Linked DNA regions of Homo sapiens: region 2 is linked to region 1. A link means that fine-mapping ties the variant in region 1 to the expression of a gene that starts in the linked region. Tissue or cell type: whole blood. Region 1 holds a variant in brackets; the other region holds the start of a gene. All regions are shown on one strand. Distances are between the middles of the regions.

The links. PIP is the estimated chance that this variant, and not a neighbour inherited with it, causes the effect.
Region 2: TP53I3 starts here. The variant in region 1 is fine-mapped to the expression of TP53I3 in whole blood (TOPMed, PIP above 0.99).

The regions. Positions count from the first base shown.
Region 1 is chr2:24,103,927-24,112,338 of GRCh38, reverse strand. It overlaps a transcript of FAM228B not described here. Among named protein-coding and RNA genes, the nearest start is that of PFN4, 15 kb to the left of the region's middle. RefSeq lists an enhancer at 7,371-7,430. The variant G/C (reference allele first, on the strand shown) is at 4,008.
Region 2 is chr2:24,082,768-24,087,767 of GRCh38, reverse strand. TP53I3 (tumor protein p53 inducible protein 3) reads left to right here and starts at 2,934. Exons shown (of 5, transcript NM_004881.5): 1 at 2,934-3,579; 2 at 4,616-4,883. The coding sequence starts at 3,442. It also overlaps a transcript of FAM228B not described here. RefSeq lists enhancers at 2,149-2,649, 3,397-3,446, 3,597-3,696, 4,292-5,000 and a silencer at 3,207-3,386.

The DNA.
Region 1 (8,412 bases):
ACAAGAGCGAAACTCCACCTCAAAAAAAAAAAAAAAAAAAAAGATGAAAGCTTCTGGTGATGGTTTTGAGATTTTCTTCAGGTCTCTTTTGATGCACATAATATATACATTTTAACCTTACCTAGCCTTAATGCATAGAGTTGACATTCCACTATGTTCATTTAGCATGATGCTATGAGACCTTGAATGTCTTTAAATTGCTTCAAAAACATTTTAAATCGCTGCATATCATATAAACATTATATTGTTCTTTGTTAGATATTTAGATTATTTCTACTTTTTCACTTTGTAAGTAATATTACAGTTTAGAACTTTTACATAATTCTTTGTATCTCTGATTATTTCCTTAGGTCTGGAAGTGGAATTTCAGGGTCAGAATTTGAGCAAGTTTATGGCTCTCTGGAGTTTTTGTTTTGTCTCTTACAAGGAAGGAATTTTACACCATAGCTTGTAACATGCAGTTGAGGGGTTTTTTTTGGCAGATGGGAGTTGTATGTAATTCAGCTCTAATTTATCAGCCCCCTCTGCTTGTGGGGTGAGTCCGAAGCAGTCTTAGTGTCCCAGTGGGTGAGGATGAGAGGAAATACTGCAGACATTTGAACTAGCTGAGTCAGAGACTGGAGAAGCAGGTTACTCTTTAAATTCCAGTTAGTGCTAAATCATGGTGATGTTGGACAGTCACACCTCTGCAGTCCAGAGATGTACAATATAAAGATACTTGTGAGGTTTGCACGACAAGCCAGGAAGCATTTGAGGACTTCTAGCCACAACTCCAAAAGAGGACAGGGATGCCAAGGCCCAAAGCTAAACAAAGACTGAGCTATCAATACTTCAGGCTAAAATTAGGCTGTGTCATCAAAACAGAATGGACAGGAGCAGAGATATGCAAAGAATGGCTCTCAAGCCTGCAAGACTTGAACATGTGAACATATTGATATGTGTGTAGAAGGAATGTGTAACCACAAAAAAAATGGAAGTGGGGCCAGGTGCGGTGGCTCATGCCTATAATCCCAGCACTCGGGAGGCTAAAGCAGGTGGATTGCCTGAGCCCAGGAGTTCGAAATCAGCCTGGGCAACATAGCAAGATCTTGTCTCTACAAAAAATGCAAAAATAGCTGGGCATGGTGGCACACCCCTGTAGTCCCAACTACTCAGGAGGCTGAGGCAGAAGGGTTGCTTGAGCCCAAGAGTTTCAGGTTACACTGAGCTATGATCATGCCACTATATTCTAGCCTAGGTGACACGGCGAGACTCTGTTTCAAAAAAAAAAAGATCAGCCAGGAAGCTCAGATAAGAGTCACTGGAGTAAATGTTGGTTGGGCCCATTCAAAGTGGGAGGGTTTATGAGCAAACAATTTAAGTACCCTGGTAGTTTCCAACAATAATTCTTTGACCAAGTGTCCTACGATTCAATTTGACACTAGCTAACTGGAGTTAGTGTAGACCTCACAGGTTAAGGAGCTCAGTTCCCACAAGCCTGTCCCCACTACAGATGCCAAACACGAGTTCCAGGTCCCCAGGCTACCCGCACTACCCACACTTCTGTCTGACCTGGCTACAGATTTGGGGGGGGAGTCCCATGACTCATGATAATTTGCTGGAATGACTACAGAACTCATGAAAAGGCTACACTGCACTTACGATTGCAGTTTTCTTATAAAGGATGCAAGTCAGGAATAGCCAAATGGAGATGTATAGGGCGGGGGCACAGAACTTCCACACCTCTCCAGACACATGCGCCTCCCAGCACATGGAGGTGTTCGCCAGCCCAGAAGCTCTCTCTCCAAACCTTGTTGTTCCAGGGTTTTTATATGGGCTTCTGTTATGTAGGCATAATTGACTGAATCATCGGCTATATGATTGAACTCAATCCCCACTCACTTTTCCTCCCCAGAAGTCAGGAGATGAAGCTAAAAGTTCCAGCCCTCTAATCACAGGGTTGGTTCTTCTGGTGACCAGCCCCTGCCCTGAAGCTATCTAGTACCTATCCCCCATCCCAGAAATGGGTGACTGATAGGTGTTTTTTCTGATCCCCTCCCTCCTCCCACCCTCCACTCTCAAGCAGGCCCCAGTGTCTGTTGTTTCCCTCCTAGTATCCACGTGTTCTCCTTGTTTAGCTCCCACTTACAAGTGAGAACAGGTGGTATTTGGTTTTCTGTCCCTGTCTTAGTTTGCTAAGGATAATGCCTCCACCTCTATCCATGTTGCTGCAAAGGACATGATCTCATTCTTTTTATGGCTGCATAATATTCCATGATGTATATATACCACATTTTCTTTATCCTGTCTACCATTGATAGGCATTTAGGTTGATTATGTGTCTTTACTATTGTGAATAGGCTGCAGTGGACATATGCATGGATGTATCTTTATGGTAGAATGATTTATATTCTTTTGGGTATATACCCAGTAATGGGATTGCTGGGTCAAATGGTAATTCTGTTTTAAGTTCACTGAGGAGTTGCCACACTTATTTCTACAATGGCTGAACTAATTTACACTCCCATCAGCACTGTATAAGCATTCTCTTTTCTCCACAACCTCGCCAACATCTATTATTTTTTGACTTTTTAATAATAGCCATTCTGAATGGTGTGAGATGGTATCTTGTAGTTTTCATTTGCATTTCTCTAATGGTTAGTGATGTTGAGCATTTTTCATATGCTTTTTGGCTGCATATATGTCTTCTTTTGAAAAGTGTCTGTTCATGTTCTTTGCCCACTTTTTGATGGGGTTGTTTTTGCTTGTAAATTTGTTTAAGTTCCTTATAGATTCTGGATATTAGACCTTTGTCAGATGTATAGTTTGCAAATATTTTCTCTCAGTAGGTTGTCTGTTTACTCTGTTGATAGTTTCTTTTGCTGTGCAGAAGCTCTTTAATTTAATTACATGCCATTTGTCAATTTTTGTTTCGTTGCAATTGCTTTTGGTGTCTTCATTATGAAATCTTCACCAAGTCCTATGTCCAGAATGGCATGTCCTAGGTTATCTTCCAGTGTTTTTATAGTTTGAGTTTTTACACATAAGTCTTTAATCCATCTTGAGTTGATTTTGTATATGGTGTAAGGAAGGGGTCAAATTTCAATCTTCTGCATGTGGCTAGCCATTTATTCTAGCACCATTTATTGAATAAGGAGTACTTTCCATTGCTTTTTTTTTTTTTTTTTGCCATTACTCTTTTTTTTTGTCAACTTTGTTGAAGATCAGATGGTTATAGGTGTATGGCATTATTTCTGGGCTCTCTCTACTGTTCCATTGGTCTATATGTCTGTTTTTGTACCAGTACCATGCTGTTTTGGTTACTGTAGCCCTGTAGTATATAGTTTGAAGTTGGGTAAGGTGATGCCTTCAGCTTTGCTTAGGGTTGCCTTAGCTATTCGAGCTCTTTTTTGGTTCCATATGAATTTCAAAATAGCTTTTTCTTTTTTTTTTTTTTTTGAGACGGACTCTTGCTCTGTCAGCCAGGCTGGAATGCAGTGGCGCAATCTCGGCTCACTGCAAGCTCCGCCTCCCAGGTTCATGCCATTCTCCTGCCTCAGCCTTCCAAGTGGCTGGGACTACAGGTACCCACCACCACACCCAGCTAATTTTTTGTATTTTTAGTAGAGACAGGGTTTCACCGTGTTAGCTAGGATGGTCTCGATCTCATGACCTCGTGATCTGCCCGTCTAGGCCTCCCAAAGTGCTGGGATTACAGGCATGAGCCACTGTGCCCGGCCAATTTGCATATGTTAAACCAACTTTGCATGTGCTGTTGGATTCAGTTTGCTAGCATTTTGTTGAGAATTTGTGCATCTATGTTCATCAAAAATATCAGCCTGAATTTTTCTTTTCTTTTTATTTTTGTTGTTGTTGTGTCTCTGACAGGTTTTGGTATCAGAATGATGCTGGCCTCATAGAATGAGTTGGGGAGGAGTCCCTCCTCCTCAATTTTTTGTAATAGTTTCTGTTGGAATGGTACCAGCTTTTCTTTATACATCAGGTAGAATTTGGCTGAGAATCCCTCT[G/C]GTCCTGGACCTTTTTTGTTTGTTTGTTTGTTTGTTTTGGTTGGTGGGCTTTTTATTACTAATTCAATTTCAGAACTCATTATTGGTCTGTTCAGGGATTCAGTTTATTCCTGGTTCAGTCTTAGGAAGCTGTATGTGTCCAGGAATTTATCCACTTCTAGATTTTCTAGTTTGTGTGCATAGAGGTATTCAAAGTAGTCTCTAAAGGTGTTTTGTATTTCTGTGGGGCCAGTGGTAACCTCCTCTTTGTAATTTCTAATTGTATTTATTTGGATCTTCTCTCGTTTTTTCTTTATTAGTCTAGCTAGTGATCTATCTATCTGATTAATTTCTTTCAAAGAACCGATTTCTGGATTTGTTGATCTTTTGTATGGTTTTTGTGTCTCAATTTCCTTTAGTTCAGCTCTGATTTTGGTTATTTCTTGTCTTCCAATAGCTTTGGGGTTGGTTTGCTCATGCATTCCTAGGTCTTCTAGTTGTAATATTAGGTTGTTAATTTGGGATCTGTCTGTTTCATGTGGGCATTTAGTGCTATAAACTTCCCTATTAACACTGCCTTAGCTGTGTCCCAGAGATTCTTGTATGTCATATCTTTGTTCTCATTAGTTTGGAAGAATTTTTTTATTTCTGACCTAATTTCGTTATTTACCCAAAAGTCATTTTGGAGCAGGTTGTTTAATTTCCATGTAATTGTGTGATTTCAATGATTTTCTTAGTATTGATTTCTATTTTTATTGCACTGTGGTCTGAGAATGTGGTTGGTATGATTTCAGGTTTTTTTATTTTGCTGAGTATTGTTTTATGTCTGATTGTCTGGTTGATTTTGGAGTATGTGCCATTTGGTGATAAGAAGAATGTATATTCTGTTGTTTTTAGGTGGAGCACTCTGTAGATGTCTATCAGGTTACTTTGGTCAAGTGTTCAGTTCAGGTCCTGAATAGCTTTGTTAATTTTCTGCCTCAATGATCTGTCTAATACTGTCAGTGGGGTGTTGAAGTCTCCCATTATTATTGTGTGGGAATCTAAATCTCTTCATAGGTCTCTAAGAACTTGTTTTATGAATCTGGGTGCTCCTGTGTTGAGTGTGTATATATTTAGGATAGTTAGGTCTTCTTGTTGAATTGTACCCTTTACTATTATATAATGCCCTGTTTATCTTTTTTTATCTTTGTTAGGTTAAAGTCCATTTTGTCTGAAATTATGATTGCAACCCCTGCTTTTTTTCTGTTTTCTGTTTGCTTTGTAGATTTTTCTCCATCCTTTTATTTTGAGCCTATAGATGTCATTACATGTGAGATGGGTCTCTTGAAGACAGCATACTATTGGGTCTTGCTTTTTTATCCAGCTTGCCACTCTGTGCCTTTTGATTGAGGTATTTAGCTGATTTACATTCAAGGTTAGTATTGATATGTGCAGATTTGATCCTGTCATCATGTTAGCTGGTTATTATGCAGACTTGTTAGTGTGGTTGATTTATAGTGTCACTAGTCTGTCTACTTAAGTGTGTTTTTGTAATGGCTAGTCATGGTCTTTCCCATCCATATTTGCTACTCCTCTCAGGACTGCTCATAAGGCAGATCTGGTGGAAAAAAAAAAATCCCCTCAGCATTTGCTTGTCGGAAAATCATCTTATTTCTCCTTCACATATGAAGCTTAGTTTGGCCAGATATGAAATTCTTAGTTGGAAATTTTCTTCTTTAAGAATGAAATGAGGCCAGGTAAGGTGGCTCATACCTGTAATCCCAGCACTTTGGGAGGCTGAGGCAGGCAGATCACCTGAGGTCAGGAGTTTGAAACCAGCCTGGCCAACACAGCAAAACCCTGTCTCTACTAAAAATACAAAAATTAGCTGGTCATAGTGGCGGGTGCCTGTAATCCCTGCTACTTGGGAGGCTGAGACAGAAGAATCACTTGAACCCAGGAGGTAGAGGTTGCAGTGAGCTGAGATCATGCCACTGCACTCAGCCTGGGCAACAGAGCAAAACTCTGTCTCAAAAAAAAAAAAAAAAAAAAAAGAATGCTGAATATAGGCCACCAGTCTCTTCTGGCTTTTAGGGTTTCTGTTGAAAGATCTGCTGTTAGCCTGATGGAGTTCCCTTTGTAGGTAACCTGCCCTTTCTCTCTAGCTGCCTTTGACATTTTTTCTTTCATGTAAACTTTGGAGAATCTGACGATTATGTGTCTTGGGGATGGTCTTGAGTAATATCTCTCAGGGTTCTCTGCATTTCCTGGATTTGAATGTTGGCCTCTCTAACAAGCTTCAGGAAATTTTCATGAACATTATCCTAAAATATGTTTTCCAAGTTGCTTGCTTTCTCCCTGTCTCTTTCAGGGATGCCCATGAGTCATAGATTTGATCTCATTACATAATCCCATATTTCTCTGAGGTTTTGTTCACTCTTTTTTATTCTTTTTTCTTTATTCTTGTCTGAATGGGTTATTTCAGAGAGCTAGTCTTCAAGCTCTGGGATTCTTTACTCAGCTTGGTCTATTCCGCTGTTAATACTTGCAGTTAGAATGTGCAATTCTTGTAGTGTGTTTTTCAGCTGTATCAGATCAGTTGGGTTCTTTTTTATAGAGGCTATTTCATCTGTCAGCTCCTGTATTGTTTTATTGTGATTATTAGCTTCCTTGGATTGGGTTTTGAATTCTCCTGAATCTTGATGATCTTCATTCCTATCCATATTCTGAATTCTATTTCTGTCATTTCAGTCATTCCAGCCCAGTTAAGAACCCTTGCTGGGGAACTAGTGTGGTCATTTGGAGGAAAGAAGACACTCTGGCTTTTTGATTTGCCAGAGTTTTTGTGCTAGTTCTGTCTCATTTGTGTAGGCTGATGTTCCTTCAATCTTTGAAGTTGCTGTCCTTTGGATGAAATTTTTTGTTTTTGCTTTTTTCTTCTTTGATGCCCTTGGGGGTTTGACTACAGGGCAAACCAAACCAAGGTGGGTTTGGTTAACTGCTTTCAATTCTAGTCCACTCCTAGGTCTTGGAGGAGCCCCTTCCAATTACTGTCTCCCTATTTGCATTTCTTTTTTGGGGTGTTCTGGTCCATGGAGCTCCCTTAGGCAAGGGCCACAGGTGGCAGACAAGCTGTAACCTTGCCAGGTCAGCTCCAATCTGCTGTCTGTGTGCTTCCTGGGGAAACACGAGGTTGTCCCTGCCTGCAGAGTTCAGGCAGAATCAGGACCACTGGATTGGAAACTACTGGGTGTGGCCCATCTGGCTACAGGACGCGGGGGTGGGTGGATGCAGTTGGCTGCCCTGCTGTCTGGGTGTTTCCAGTGCAACAGGAGGCTGCGTCCCTTGACAAATTCAGGTAGAAGTAGAGCCACTGGGCCAGCTCTGGCAGGTGTGGCTTGCCTGGCTACCAGTGGCTGGTGTTGGTGGGAATGCCTTCTCTGGTGTCTGTGCTTCCTGGGACAACAGAAGGCTGCATTTGTTGGCTGAGTTCACACAGAAGCAGGACTGCTGGGCCAGAAGCTCTAGCAGGTGTTATCCACCTGGCTGTCAGTGGCAAGGGTGGGTATGGTCATGTGCCTTGCCATTTGGGTGCTTCCTATGACAACAGGAGGCTGCACCCACCAGTTGAATCCACACAGAAGCAGAGCTGCTGGGCCAGGAGCTCTAGCAGTTGTTACCCAACTGGCTACCAGTGGCAGGGTAGGTAGAGTCACTTACTCTGCTGTTCGGGTGTTTCCCAGGACAACAGAAAGCTGCACCCTCTAGCTGAGTTCACACAGAAGCAGGGCTATTAGGCTGGAAGCTCTAGCAGGTGTTGCCCGCCTGGCTACCAGTGGTGGGGGTGGGTGGAGTGGCTGGCCGAGTTCAGGCTGAAGTGAGACTACTGGGCTAGAGGCTGGTGTTGAGTCCTACCCAGCATGGGTGGGTGGAGCAACCTTACTGCTCCCATGCATGGCAACTGCAGCCTTTGCTGGGGCTTCGGCGCTGGCTGGTCTGCCCCAGGGCCCAAGGCTTATAGAGGTCCCCTTGGACTCGAGAGTTGGCCCTATAATACGTCTGAGTGGCTCTCTGCCTCAGTCTAGAAACACGATGGGTGGGTGTGGGGCCCAGTGGGATTCTCCTATTCCCAGTCTTGCACAGGTCCCTGTGGAGAGCATGAATCACCCTGGGGGCTCTCACTCACTCACCCTGTCCTGTGCTGGAGAGGTTCTCCTGGCTCCATGCTGAGCCCAAACAGCTGGTGCCTGGCTTCACTCCTTTCTGCACTCTGTGTTCCTCTACTGCCCTGATGGGTCCCAACGTGGTTTTTCAGATGATCGGCCTGCAGCTCAGTGTTTGCTAGTCCTTTTGTTTCTTCTCCAAAACAGCAGCACACATGAGCTGCCTCTAGTCCACTATCTCGGCCCCACCCCCAATTCATCTCAATCGTCCCATCTTGTCC
Region 2 (5,000 bases), 23 kb after region 1:
GTGGTGGCTCACACCTGTAGTCCCAGCTACTCGGGAGGCTGAGGCAGGAGAATCGCTTGAACCTAGGAGGTGGAGGTTGCAGTGAACTGAGGTCAGGCCACTGCACTCCAGCCTGGGCAACAGAGTGAGACTCAGTTTCAACAACAACAACAAAAAAGAATTCTTATAGCGTGTAATCTCCAGTCCCTGCTTCCCCTTCCCAGGGTCTTTCTGGTGACCAGCTCATCCTGAAGCTATCTAGGGCCCCCACCCTAAGTCATATTAGCATAAACTCGAGTGTGCTTATAAGGGTTTGTTATTAATATAAAAAGTCACTTCTATCACATACGAAATTCCAAGGGTTTTAGGAGCTCTGCAGGAGAACAAAATATAATAAAAGATACTTATTGGCCAGGCAGAGTGGCTCATGCCTATAATTCCAGTACTTTACAGGCTGAGGTGGGAGAATTGCTTGAGTCCAGGAGTTCATGATCAGCCTGGGCAACGTAGCAAGACCGTATATCTAGTTAAAAACAAAAGAAAGAAAGAGATGTTTATTCAGCAAATAACAAAGGTTTTAGGAGTGCTATTGTAGGAACCCAGGACAAAGACCAAAAATATATATTTCTTATTACACACTGCAAGATTACATCGACCAAGGGCTCACTAAGATAAAATCTTAGGCACTTTCAACTACTAGTTTTACTGGGATACTTTAGTATACTTAGTGGTTGGTATTATTAGATTTTTTTTAAAGTTACTCCTTGCATCTTAAAAGTTCTTATTTAGCACTTACATTACACATTCCTCATCTATCTTAATCCATTCCATTTTCTTAATCCAATCAGTTTTAGTGTCGATTTTTGCAAAGTTTGTTATTTACAACTATTTCCTTTCCATCTGTCTCTGTTCTAGGATATTTATTTGGTTCAAACCTTTCCTCGATTTTGGACAGATGTGTATCCGGATGATGTGTCTCTGAATCCTTATACATCCTCAGACATGTTTTTTGCCCTAACAAGTGAATTATATCTTAATGGGGTATATTGAGTTACAGTGCTTTTCTTCTAGTCAATAGACGCTAGTCTACTCTCTTCTAGCTTCCAGATTGCAGATAGAAACTTGCTGGGCACAGTGGCTCATACTTGTAATCCTAGCACTTTGGGAGGCTGAGGCAGGAGGATTGCTTGAGTCCAGGAGTTTGAGACCAGCCTGGGCAACATAATGAGACCCCTACACTACAAAAAAGAGAGAGAGAGAAAGAGGGGGTGGGGAAGGAGGGAAGGAAGGAAGGAGGGAGGGAGGGAGAGAAGGAAGCCATTTTTTTTAACCAATTGTGAGTAACTTATTCTTTCCACACTTGTTAGAACCTGAAATTTTATAAAATATAGGCATGCATTTTTGTTCTTATGAATCCATCCTTTAGTGAATGTTTTCAATCCGTATAATCTGGTAGAATTTAGGAAAACTGTATTCTTTTATTTGGTTAACTATTGAATCTTCTTCATCCATTCCTCTTCCTCCTTCTAAAATTCCTTTTTTTTTTTTTTTTTTGAGACGGAGTCTCACTCTGTCGTCCAGGCTGGAGTGCAGTGGTGCGATCTCGGCTCACTGCAAGCTCCCCCTCCCGGGTTCACGCCATTCTCCTGCCTCAGCCTCCCGAATAGCTGGGACTACAGGCGCCCGCCACCACGCCCGGCTAATTTTTTGTATTTTTAGTAGAGACGGGGTTTCACCGTGTTAGCCAGGATGGTCTCGATCTCCTGACCTCGTGATCCGCCCGCCTTGGCCTCCCAAAGTTCTGGGATTACAGGCGTGAGCCACCGCGCCCGGCCTAAAATTCCTGTTATTCTCATAGCAGGGTCTCCTGAATTTTTCCTTAAGTCCCATCATTTTATTATTTCCATCTCTATAGGCTTTTGCTCTGTTGTGTTAAAGAAATAATTATTCAATGATACTTGTTAAAGCACATTAAGGAAGACTTTATTTAGCACCATCGCTACAGGTTTAGGGACCACTGCAATGAGTTCTTGCAGTGGAGGAGACAGGTTGGGATCAACTCTGAATGCATCACGGACAAGTGGGAATGTATAGCCAAGGAGCAGTGTAGGGGGTCAGTGGATGGAAAATTGGTAAGAGGCATCAGGGGTAAGGGGGATTCTATCTAAACTGACCTAACAGGATTCTCACTGAAGACAGGCCAGGGTGGTCGGATATCACTTGGGGGATGGTGGAGGATGAGATATTGAGGGTGATCAGATGTCAAGGATGGGAGGTTCTTACTAAAACAGGAATTTACAAGGAGTGCTACGGATATGTAGTGGGGGGAGGCCAGGGATGCTGCTAAACATCCTACGATGCACAGGACGATCTCCTACAATAACGAACTAGCTAGTCCAAAATGTCAATAGCGCCGAGATTGAGAAACCTTCATGTAGCTTACGGATACAGCTTTTACCCAATCGCCAGCATCCTTCTCCTGGGGCTGAACCTCTCCCCCAGGACTGTCAGGAGGAGGCGAGTGATAAGGATCCCAGGACTGCGTTTTGCCTTCCTTCCCCACCCCCACTCCCAACGGCTCCTTTCTCTTCTCTTAGCAGCACCCAGCTTGCCCACCCATGCTCAAGATGGGCGGGATGCCAGCCTGTTACATAAATGTGCCAAAAGCCTGGCCATGCCTGGAAAATGGACCAATCCGCCCGCCAAGAGGTTGGGTCTCGTTCCCTAGAGAGAAGGAAGTTTCCTCTCCTTGAAGTGAGAGCTAGAATCGCACTTTCTGTCAAGCTGAGAGAAAGACTCTTTTCCAGAGGCTAAAAGGACAAGAAAATCTGATTTGCTTGCTTCTAACTTTGCGTTTTAAAGGGGGAAGGAGGAAAGGAAAGAGGGGGAGGGTGGTTCTGCTTAGCCCCACCCCTCCGGCTACCCCAGGTCCAGCCGTCCATTCCGGTGGAGGCAGAGGCAGTCCTGGGGCTCTGGGGCTCGGGCTTTGTCACCGGGACCCGCAGGAGCCAGAACCACTCGGCGCCGCCTGGTGCATGGGAGGGGAGCCGGGCCAGGAGTAAGTAACTCATACGGGCGCCGGGGACCCGGGTCGGGCTGGGGGCTTCCAACTCAGAGGGAGTGTGATTTGCCTGATCCTCTTCGGCGTTGTCCTGCTCTGCCGCATCCAGCCCTGTACCGCCATCCCACTTCCCGCCGTTCCCATCTGTGTTCCGGGTGGGATCGGTCTGGAGGCGGCCGAGGACTTCCCAGGCAGGAGCTCGGGGCGGAGGCCGGGTCCGCGGCAGACCAGGGCAGCGAGGCGCTGGCCGGCAGGGGGCGCTGCGGTGCCAGCCTGAGGCTGGGCTGCTCCGCGAGGATACAGCGGCCCCTGCCCTGTCCTGTCCTGCCCTGCCCTGTCCTGTCCTGCCCTGCCCTGCCCTGTCCTGTCCTGCCCTGCCCTGCCCTGTGTCCTCAGACAATATGTTAGCCGTGCACTTTGACAAGCCGGGAGGACCGGAAAACCTCTACGTGAAGGAGGTGGCCAAGCCGAGCCCGGGGGAGGGTGAAGTCCTCCTGAAGGTGGCGGCCAGCGCCCTGAACCGGGCGGACTTAATGCAGGTACCCAGGGCTCAGCCGCGCCGGGGCGGGCGGGACTCCAGAGCCTCCCTCTCAACAGCACTCAGTGGACATTGACCAGACGTGAAGGCGTGCACCGCTCCACACCCAGCAGGCAGCTGCGCTGGGGCTTCCCAGACCTAAACCCAGGGCGCCCTCTTTGTTCATGCAAAACAAGGGGGAGTACTTGTAAAGCAGAATCCACCCCGAGCTAATCCATAGCCACTCAGGCCTCCAGATGAGGGCGGAACTAACATTGTTGTGGGGTGTGGGCACACTTACTCCCCAGGCTACCCTGTTCGCCATCTTAATTCTACAGATAAGGAAACTGAAGTTCAGTGAGGTTAAGCAGTACGCCCAAGGCCGTGACACTAGCAATCAGAAGAGCTGGGATTCAAGCTGAGGTCTTTGTGGCTCCAAAGACCTCTTAACTCTTTCCACTCTGAGAGTCCCGGAGCTGACAGCGGGCAGTACTCTTAAGAATTTTCTTCTGTCTGATGCTGATTTACTGACCTGGGCCAGCTGCATTGGTTGGGGTCATTCAGAAATGTGCATCAGAATCCCCCGGGGCACAAAAGAAACGTGATGGGGGCCCAGGCACGTGTACTTTGAAATACTCCTCAGGTGGTTCTGCCACACACTCCTGGTTAAGTCCCTCTGCTCTACAGCTTCTGAGGACTGGGGTGAGTGAGCACAGAGCCTAGCGCTTGATGCATGGGAACCATCGTCAAGGTTCCTAATCCCACTACTATTATTTCCCGTCTGGGACTCAGTTTCTCCATCTGTAAAGCAAGGGGTTCAGATGAGGTAAATAGCTAAGGACTCTACCAGTTATAACATCCACTGATCATGTGACCTCCAGTTTATTTGCATAAAACTAATGGCCTCTCCTTTTTCTTCTCCTTACTTACAAAAACCTGACTTCATTCTGAAATTTATTTTTGAAAAAAAAAAGAGGGGATCTTGGAAGGGGGGCCAGGGGTAGTGACATACAGATTTCTGATCATGCTCACCACTTAGTGCACTTCTTTCTCTGCAGAGACAAGGCCAGTATGACCCACCTCCAGGAGCCAGCAACATTTTGGGACTTGAGGCATCTGGACATGTGGCAGAGCTGGGGCCTGGCTGCCAGGGACACTGGAAGATCGGGGACACAGCCATGGCTCTGCTCCCCGGTGGGGGCCAGGCTCAGTACGTCACTGTCCCCGAAGGGCTCCTCATGCCTATCCCAGAGGGATTGACCCTGACCCAGGCTGCAGCCATCCCAGAGGCCTGGCTCACCGCCTTCCAGCTGTTACATCTTGTGGGTGAGGAGGCCTCCATGCTCACTCCACACAATGTGGCTCAACACCTTCATAAATCAGCCAACTTGAATCCCAGCAATCCCCCAGGGCACTCCCAGGCCTTCCTGTATCACCTGTATT